3 separate regions of the Homo sapiens genome follow, and all the other regions are reported to be linked to region 3. Evidence: microRNA targets listed by miRTarBase, many of them from high-throughput screens and not tested one by one. Region 3 holds a microRNA gene; each other region holds the end of a gene's coding sequence. Distances are between the middles of the regions.

Region 1 (3,000 bases), 22 Mb from region 3:
AACTCCTTGATTGTAGATATTATTTTCCCAGAAGGCGCTGGGCTAACCCTGCTCTCTTCCCTTCGTGCAGACAAACTCAACCAGAACTCCCAGCTGAGCCACAGTTATCAGGAGAGGAGTCCAGCTCAGAAGATGATTCTGACCTGTTTGTTAACACAAACCGCAGACAGTATCATGAGAGTGAGGAGGAGAGTGAAGAGGAGGAGGCAGCCTGAGACTCCAGGACCCAATTCTCCACTTGCTCAGGGACTGGCCCCTGGCTCTTCTGGGCTTGGACATTCCCAGGGTGCTCTGCACATCTTCACCCCTGCATGAGGACAAAGCAGGGCTCCTCTCTGAACTGATCTTTTGATTCAGAGAATTAAACCCCTGGTGGGTTGGTGACTTGTTCTGGTGTCTGAGTGGCTCTCTCGGGGGAGGGAGATTGTGATGAAGTGAAAAACTGCTCCCTATTTATTAGAGACCTTGTGGGTGGGTGGGCTGAATGGGGAGGAAATGGGAAATGGCTGGAGTCTTTCCCAGGTGGTTTGTTCTTTCTTATTGGGCACTTAGAAAGTGCCAGGCCGTGCTCTGGGCCTTCTTGCATGTGTTTAACAGCTGGGAGCACTCCTGCTTCCTTGCCTGCTTGCAGTTCATACCAATTTAAGCATTCAGGATGACAGCCCTAGGACCTAACACCCACCTGCCTCTAAGAGACGCTCAGGAGCCCATGGTGCCTCGTGCTGTTCTCCCCGCCTTTCTAGTCACCCTGTGTACGGGAGTGCTCACCTCCAGCTACTGTGTCCATCCCCACATACGACCTCATCTCTCCCACTCTGCACCATCTATCACTTCCAGAAGGTGGCTGGCAAATCTCTCTATCCTTAACTTTGTTTTGAATGGTCCATCCATCTCCTGACTTTATTTGAAACCTGATTATTCCCTGAGGACATTGATTGTCTTATAACCTTTTAAATAGAGGCTGCTTTTCCACCCTCACCCTTCATTCTTCTAACCAGCCCTGACATTCTCATGAGTAACCTTCTGCCTTCACTTCCCTCTTGTGTAGCATCAATTCCGTAGTCCACCCTACACCCCTCTGTCTCCCTCCATTCTGTTCCGCTAGTAAAACCCTAACCCTGGGTAAACCCAATCATTCACCTCTGTGCCCAAACCCAAGTCACCATCATTAGGTGAGAAAACAGCCAGCCTGGCCACCAGTTGTACCTTACGTTTATCATTACAAACCTCAGATGGACACTAAGCACTGCCCAGCAGATCTACTCTGGGATGTCTGTTTCAAAACTTCTGTCTTATCTATCAATTCCCCCTTGTGGTAGTTACCACAACACATGCCTCATTAAGAAACAGCAACCATCAGAGGGAATGCCTGCCTCCCTGTTACCAGCTCTGCAGATGTGCACATATCTTCCTGTCGTAAGCCAATGGGACTTAAACCTTACCTCTTGTGTTTTGGAGACTATCTTTTTTTTTTTTTTTTTTTTTTTGAGAGAGTGTCTCCCTGTGTTGCTCAGGCTGGAGTGCAGTGGTGTGATCTCGGCTCACTGTAACCTTCACCTACTGGGTTCAAGTAACTCTCCTGCCTCAGCCTCCCGAGTAGCTTGGACTACAGGCGTGCACCACCACACCTGGCTAACTTTTTGTATTTTTAGTAGAGACGGGGTTTTGCCATGTTGCCCGGGCTGGTCTCGAACTCCTGACCTTAAATGAGCCTCCTGCCTCAGCCTCCCAAACTGCTGGGATTACAGGCGTGTGCCACCATGCCTGGCTAATTTTTATATTTTCAGTAGAGACGAGGTTTTGCCATGTTGGCCAGGCTGGTCTCGAACTCCTGACCTCAAGTGGTCCACCCACCTTGGCCTCCTAGAGTGCTGGGATTACAGGTGTGAGCCACTGTGCCCGGCCTCTTTTGCTTTCTTAAAGACTTTGGTCGGGTATTTGTGTTGTTGAGTATTGTGTCTGGGTGTGGGTATTTGATTCTTTTTTTGTTTTGTGTTTTTGGCTGTCCTGTCTATTGGATGTGATATGTTATGGATGTGATGTGTTAGTGTCGAGCGTGCTGTAGAATCTCCCATTTCTGAAACAGGCGTGAAAACCTGTACTGATTCCCACGTCCTCCAGCTACCACTTCATTTGTCTGTTTCTCATTTACTTTCTCTTATAGCGTGGCTTTAAACATATATACATTTGTATATATGTATATATGAATATAATGTATAAAATGTATGTAGATGTATATACAAAAAATAAACGAGATGGGTTAAAGATATGTATGTGTGTGTATCTATCTTTAATTCATCTGAAGTTTGTTTTTTCTGAGAGGTAGCAAACTTTCCCTAAAGGGAAAGTCACTTGTCCCTGTACTATTTCTTGAAAGGTTCATTCTTTGCTCACTGGAAATATTTCTTTTTTTTTTTTTTTGAGACGGAGTCTCGCTCTGTTGCCCAGGCTGGAGTGCAGTGGCGCCATCTCGGCTCACTGCAAGCTCTGCCTCCCGGGTTCACGCCATTCTCCTGCCTCAGCCTCCTGAGTAGCTGGGACTACAGGCACCCACCACCACGCCCGGCTAATTTTTTGTATTTTTAGTAGAGATGGGGTTTCACCGTTGTTAGCCAGGATGGTCTCAGTCTCCTGACCTCGTGATCTGCCTGCCTTGGTCTCCCAAAGTGCTGGGATTACAGGCATGAGCCACCACGCCTGGCCAGAAATATCTTTTAAAACATAAATTCCTGCATATATATGGATCTTTTTTGGAATTTCTAATCTGTCCTATTGATCCGTGTGCCCATACTGCATTTTTTTTTTTTTTGAGACAGTCTTGCTTTGTCACCCAGGCTGGAGTGCAGTGGCGTGATCTCAGCTCGCTGTAACCTCCGCCTCCCAGGTTCAAGCGATTCTCCTGCCTCAGCCTCTCCATAGCTGGGACTACAGACACTTGCCACTACACCCGGCTAATTTTTGTATTTTTAGTAGAGACGGAGTTTCAACTTTTATTTTTTT
Region 2 (3,346 bases), not on the chromosome of region 3:
GTTAAAACTTGATTACCTTTGTAAAAACCCTATTTCTAAGTGAGCTCACATTCTGGGGTACTGGAGGTAAGGACTTTAAAGATCTTTTTTTGGCCAGGCGCAGTGGCTTACGCCTGTAATCCCAGCACTTCGGGAGGCCGAGGTGGGCAGATCACGAGGTCAAGAGATTGAGACCATTCTGGCCAACATGTTGAAACCCCGTCTCTACTAAAAGTACAAAAATTAGCTGGGCGTGGTGGTGCACGCCTGTACTCCCAGCTACTCGGGAGGCTGAGGCAGCAGAATTGCTTGAACCTGGGAGGCGGAGGTTGCAGTGAGCCGAGATTGCGCCACTGCACTCCAGCCTGGCAACAGAGCGAGACTCCAGCTCAATAAATAAATGAATAAATAAATAAACAAACATCTTTTTTTGTGGGAGACACAATTCAACCCCCAACAGTAAGAAAGGCCCAGTTCCTCACTCCAAGCTCAATTTAGTGAAAGCAAATCAAGGGACAGGCTGGGAAGAGGATCCCTGTCCCTCCCCTAGCATACCTCACATGGGGTGGGGAGGCAGACGGCCAGCGGGCTGGGTGAGACCCCAACACAGCTGCCTCCACAGAGGCTGAGACCATGAGCAACGGCTAATATCGACCAAGGGCCTCTGAAGATCGTTGGGGCACTGTGCTGACCCAAACCAGGCGAAGGACAGAGGTCTCTCAGTACCTTGATGCAAACACCTCACATGCCCCGGCCCCTCACCAAGACGGGCTGGATCCACAGTGGCCAGGAGGGGGCCCCTTCTTCCCTTCACCCATGGCCACATCGCACATTAGCAGAGCTGGGGACAAGCTGGCTGTGCAGGGATGGGAAGAGTGCTGCGGGCTGCTGGCGGCTGTTCTGTGTAGCTTCCCTAAGTCCCTCGCCCAAATAAGAGTCCTAGCCGTGGCTGACCTGGGGAGCAGTTAGGACACTTACAGCTGCAAGGGACCAAACAGCAAACCAGCAGTGGCTTCCTAAGGTGTTCCTCCCAGAGGCCAGGGTGGCTGGGGGCAGGGGACTCCCTGGTGTGTGCAGGAGCTGAATGACACCAGGGCTCCAGCCTGCGACTGTGGTTCTCGTGATGTCACCACAACGCCTCCATCCATGTCAGCCTCCCACACGGGAAACAAGGGGATGGGTGGCCCAGAAATGCTCGTTTAGTAATTTTTTTTTTTTTTGAGACAGGATCTCACTCTGTTGCCCAGGCTGAAGTGCAGTGGTGCAATCACACCTCACTGCAGCCTCAACCTCCTGGGTTCAAGCGATCCTCCCAACTCAGCCTCCTCAGTAGCTGGGACTACAGGCACACGCCACCACACCCAGCTAATTTTTGTATTTTCTATGGAGATGGGGTTTCACCATGTTGCCCAGGCTGGTGTCAAATTCCTGGGTTCAAGCAATCCTCCCACCTCAGCCTCCCAAAGTGCTGGGATTACAGGTGTGGGCCACCATGCCCGGCCTGCTCCCCCCTTTCCTAAAGGGAAAAACAGACCTCTCAGAAATCCGCAACAGCACCCCCATGGCCCCCCAGGCCCCTGCTGGCAAAGGGGAACAAGCCGCCCACCAGGCTCCTGCAGTGCTGGCTGGGCCCGGGGCATACTCCCACCTGCACAACACCTGGGGCTGCCAGGGACAGGCTGGGATCTGTTCCTGTTGAGCGATGGGCGACTGGGCAGAGCCACTCCATATCCAGCATCCTGAGACCCTAGACCTGAAGCCAGGAGGTATCTGGGGCCTGTCTCTCCCTGCAGAAAGGATGGGTGTAAACTCGCCTGGCTGGGAGGTGACCGTACGAGACACCAGAGCATGGATGCAGAATAGACGGGACTGTGGGGGAAGACGCAGTAATGCCTGACCAGTGCCCTGGCAGATGCTCTGTAACCAGGAGCTGTGATGGCCTCCACCCAGCCCACCCCCAGCAACCACCTCCAGGATCCGCACGAAGCAGACGTTGGGCAAAGTGAACCCAGCCCCAGTTTATTAGAAAAGGTGTGAACAGAGTTGCACCGACAGGAGTAGCCCCAGCCCTCTGCCCACCCTCACCCACACCCATGCCACTCGCCCCCAAAGGGCTGTAGTGCCTCTCAGGGCGCAGCCTCCAGTGGCCTGGACAGCAGGGTCCCGGAGTGCCGGCTGCTCCCGCCCCAGCTCCCTGATAGATTTATTGCACTTGAGAAAAAGAAAGCTCTGATCCTCTGCTCCCATCCCCCCACCCTGCCCGGCCTGCGCTGTCTGGGGCTGTTCTGTGCATCTCAACCACCACCAGCACGCACCGCCTCTCCGGCACCAGGCTGCCTGCCCGGCCCTGTGCCCGGGGCCACAGGGGACCATCCCACCACCACCCAGGACGCCTGCCCTCCGCAGGGCAAGCCTGGCCCCTCCAGAACAGGCGCCTGATGTCCTTGGAGACCTCCTCCTCCTCCTGCTCCCCCTCCTCCCATTCACCCCCAGAGTCTTCCAGTGCTGGGCTCATAAATAGAAGTGCTTGAGTCACGCGCGGAGGGCCACTCCCTGTAGCTCCTGCACCCCTTGTAGTGTTGCTGTGGGGGGAGGGGGGCCCCAGAATGGCCCCCACCCCTGGCATCCTGGGCCTCAGGAAGGCTGGGGGGAAGGTGAGCAGATTCTCATGGCTCTGGCCTCAGCTCATCGCAGACCGACCGGAAAAAGGGAACTTGGGGAGGAGAGATTGGGGGAGAGACTGTCAGAGCCAGAGGCTCTCTCAGCTCCTCCCGAGTGCTGTGGGCCCCGGGCCTGGCCTCACCTAAAGTGTCACAGTGTCTCCTGCCCGGATTCCTGACTGGCTTCCAGAAGCAGCTCCTCGAGCTCCTTCTCGTTCTTGGAGCAGCTCAGTTCTGTGTGGGAGGACGGGCCAGCACCCCCGTCAGGCGGGTGGGGCAAATACAACCTGTCCCCAGCCCGGCCCCAGCCAGACCCTCAGGGCCTGCAGAGTGCCCAGAGACCGCTGAGATGGTCAGGCTCAAGGCAGCACACCTTACATGCCCCCCCACCCCAGGAAGAGCTCCCAGGACCCAAGGGAAGCAGGGTGGAGATGAGAACTAAGCCCCACTTTGCTGGCCCCTGCGAGAACCATTTTAAAGAGGGGGAAACTGAGGTCCACAACAGGCAGGGGCTTGCCTGGGGTCACATACAGCACCCAGGGCCCCTCAACACCTGCCCTAGGGCCCCTCTCACCGTGCTCCAGGCCGCAGCTGCCCCCCTTGACCTCAGGCCCCGGGGGCGGCTCAGGGGGCAGTGCCAGGGCGAACTCGGGCTTCAGGCCGTTGGGCAGTGGTGGCCCTGACCGAGGCGGCTCCGGTGGTGGCTG
Region 3 (3,346 bases):
GATTCAATTATTCGCTTGACGAAGGAAGATGAGTAATAGGGTTCTCAGCCTGAAGTCTAGGTTACTTCTTACTTCCTCCCACCTGGATTGACTTCAGGAGCGTGCAACTTGTGTAGTTGCAGGGCCCTTGGCTCAGAAGAGCTCCATGGTTGGTTTAAGATTCTACTGTTATTGTCTTGAAATTCTTAAAAATTTTGTCTTTGAACCCGTGTTTTGTAAGTGAAGTCTATGGGATAATAGAGAATGTGTGTGCCCATCCATCGTTCCTGTCCCACAATGTTGGCAGTAGCCCATGCGTACAGAATTCCAGTGGGAGCTCAGTGAGACTCGGGGCAAGTAGAATGGAAAGTAAGCCTATGACTACACAGACGGGGGACACAGACAGTGCCCAGAGGTCATGCTTTCTGTTTGAACCAGATGCTTCAAATGCAGAAGGAAGGCAATAGAGTTCTAAGAAACACTAATGCCTAAGGGACCCTAAAGTAGCATTTCTTACTTATGTTCCTTCCCTGTATTTGCCAAACACCTATGCTGAAAATGTTGACACAGAAGGAAAGGTGAAGATAGAGCAATCCATAGCTATTTCTCCTCAACAGCAAGCTGAAGGTGGAGAGTGCTGGTACAAAGCGCTTGTATCAAGAAGTGAAATAAAAACACTGGAGTTCATTTTGTCAGCATCTCCATTGTTCTGGTAAGAATGAAATACCTATGCATATGCGACATATGAAATGTGAATTGTGTAATTTCAGTGATTCTACAAATGAGTTAAACGCTCTTGTGTTTACATTTACAACTGGCATCACACAATATAAAGATGAACGGTAAAATTCATGCTAAAAATTTAAAATTTTTATTTTTATTTAGCACCACATGAAAAACAGCAAATAAAAAACCACCATGACGATTCTAGAGAGAGATTGTGGAAGAAAGACAAAGGCATTATATTTAGGCACTTTCTTCCTGCTTTTTGAACAAGGGGCCCTACGTGTTCATTTTGTGCCAGGTTCCATGAATTCTATAACCAGTTCTGCCCCTGCCCTTAGGTTTCTTTTGAGAAACAGGGCAAGCACCAGGGCTCATCCAAGGTGATGAAGATAAAAGTCGGACTTCATTCTTGCCATAAATGAGTAGACACCTGCTTGCTGTAATGCTCTCCAACGTCGCGTGAAGGGGCAACTGACACTCCTGAATGAATATGAGGAAACCCAAGGCAAATTCAGGTTCACCACATACACTCAGGGACATCAGGTCCACCCCTAAACTGGATGAAGAACGTCTCAGCTGGCATCTTCGGACTTGACAGAGAGGAAGAAGGTCTGTTTCCTTGTGTATGTGGCTCATGAGCTGACGTGGGCTCTCGTGGGTTCTCATGTGGAGAGAACCCTGGGTACCCACATGCATACTGTTGTGGTTTTTGCACATATATGTGCATGTACACTGCACATACATGTCTGCATGTGACAAGTGCTTGGGCACCTGGTAGAACCTGAGAGAGGTGGTCTTTCCATGGATCTCCGGGGAAGGCTGATGGACATGAAATACTTTTTAGGTGCTATTCTTCTGGAACTTGGTCCCTAGAAGACCACAGCTCAGAGTAAAGAGAGATACTGACAGTCTTGGAGGACTGTGGAGAGCAGATGGCTATAATTCCAGGACCAGATTTTTTTTTCTTGTAACCACTTCCCCCACAGCATTTATATCAAAGGGAGACAAATACTTGTTGACTTAAGCAATAAACAGAAACAATTTCCTTCTGAGAAGTGCAACACAAAGAAACCTGATGCTTTCCGGGCTGTGGAAGACTCTCCATCCCCCTTCTTGGAGCAGGACCTTCAGTGATATGGACAGTGGGTGTCAGGCCAGCTGACCTGGTTTTACTTCACACCGGCAGATCCAGGGATGCAGCCACCATCCACTCTGCTTTATTTAGTGAGACAGCACTTCATACCAACAGCAGGCTTAATCACAGTCTATACCAACATTTCACTTCCCATTTCTATGTCTGTACTCCTTGCCTTTTGGTTATTTGGGGTGGGGGGTGGCAATAGCATGCTGATTCTATCTTCCAAGCACCCTCCCCAAATCTCCTACTTCCCTGCTGAAAACGATTCCCTTCTCATGTTAATTTGATGACCCAGCCAGCTGCACCCCTCCGCCCCCGCACCCCCAGCGCAAAAGAAAAAGCCACTACCTTACTCCTTCAGAATTACATCCCCGCTCAGATGGTCTTCTCAACTACCAGCCCAGTCCAAAGAACCCTCGTCATATTTCCAGGCTCATCTGAACCAGACATTCAAGTAGTGCCCCCACACGGATATTTAAGGACCATGGAGGAGGGGGTATTCCCTCCTCCCCCTGTGTTCCACCTCCCAGAAGTGGCTGCTCTTCAGAGTGGAGGTGATTCAGCTTTCCTAGAAGATGATTTGCAGGGGGAAAAAAATGTACAGTACTACAGCTGAGAGTGCTGCCTGCTTCCCTCGATGAAAAAAAAAATCCTGCTCTCAGACACATGGAATTCCCATTGATGAGGTTTGGCCAACACCAGGCGCTGGATTTTCCCCGTTAAACATAAAGCTCTGGGTGAAAGACGCGGGGGAGGGAGAAGGGATAATGATATCTTTTCAACCTTTTCAGACCTCTGGGGGATTTGAACTCTGGCCCCCAAGGTCAAATGGCTGATGTTCAAAAGCCCCCTCTCTCCACCCCTCCACCTCTCTTCCCCAAGCTCCTTCCTAACAAAGAATGACTCTCTTTGCTACACACAATAAAGCCCTGGTGGATTTACCCAGATTAAAAAACCCCTTGAAGTCCCTGTCAAAACTAATCTTCTCAGGAGAAACACTTGTTGATAACCACCTCGCTTTGTGCAGCAGCAGGGAGGAACTGGGAGGACCAGAACCCAACGGAAAAACTGGCCTGTGACCTCCCTATCGTCACATGGCCCCAAGCACCATACGATCTCTGACCTCATAGAACGCCCCTCCTTCCACGACACACAAGTATTCTGCAAGCCCCTGCCCCATTTAGCTTCTCCACCTCAGGCTCCCCCCCGTTACAGCACCAGCCCCTCAAAGCAGGAAGGCCAACCCTGTAAGTCCCCAGACTGACAGACCCTGGCTGAGCTCCAGCCGTTCCCTCCTTCTCTGCCGCCCCCGAGTTTTAACCCTTCACCCTGCAGGGCTCAGTATCTCTTGTCTTTCCTGCTGCAAACTTTGTCAGGAGCCTTTTCAGGCGGTTTTCCTCTACACAACCAGCCCTTAAGATATCATGCATAAAGATTTCCCTCTACAGGTGGTTGTGAGCTGTAGCAGTTTTTGCTCTTGCAACGGAAACATTTATTTTAAAT

Evidence for each region. Region 3 holds the annotated microRNA hsa-miR-670-5p (GUCCCUGAGUGUAUGUGGUG, at 1,224-1,243, opposite strand). A microRNA usually pairs through its seed, bases 2 to 8, with sites in the 3' UTR of a target mRNA and lowers its output. Matches are read on the target gene's strand: a 7mer-m8 pairs with bases 2 to 8, a 7mer-A1 pairs with bases 2 to 7 and ends in A, and an 8mer does both.
Region 1: the mRNA of EIF1AD is a reported target of hsa-miR-670-5p. Seed matches in the 3' UTR shown: 7mer-m8 at 243-249.
Region 2: the mRNA of PPP1R37 is a reported target of hsa-miR-670-5p. Seed matches in the 3' UTR shown: 7mer-m8 at 2,171-2,177.

What each region holds. Positions count from the first base shown.
Region 1 is chr11:65,995,814-65,998,813 of GRCh38, reverse strand. It overlaps EIF1AD (eukaryotic translation initiation factor 1A domain containing), which reads left to right. Exons shown (of 6, transcript NM_001242481.2): 6 at 71-2,269. The coding sequence ends at 215. Among named protein-coding and RNA genes, the nearest start is that of EIF1AD, 4.8 kb to the left of the region's middle.
Region 2 is chr19:45,145,917-45,149,262 of GRCh38, reverse strand. PPP1R37 (protein phosphatase 1 regulatory subunit 37) reads right to left here. Exons shown (of 13, transcript NM_019121.2): 11 at 3,214-3,346; 12 at 2,783-2,873; 13 at 1,978-2,692. The coding sequence ends at 2,791. Among named protein-coding and RNA genes, the nearest start is that of NKPD1, 13 kb to the left of the region's middle.
Region 3 is chr11:43,557,572-43,560,917 of GRCh38, reverse strand. It overlaps MIR670 (microRNA 670), which reads right to left and starts at 1,262; the gene lies at 1,165-1,262. It also overlaps a transcript of HSD17B12 not described here.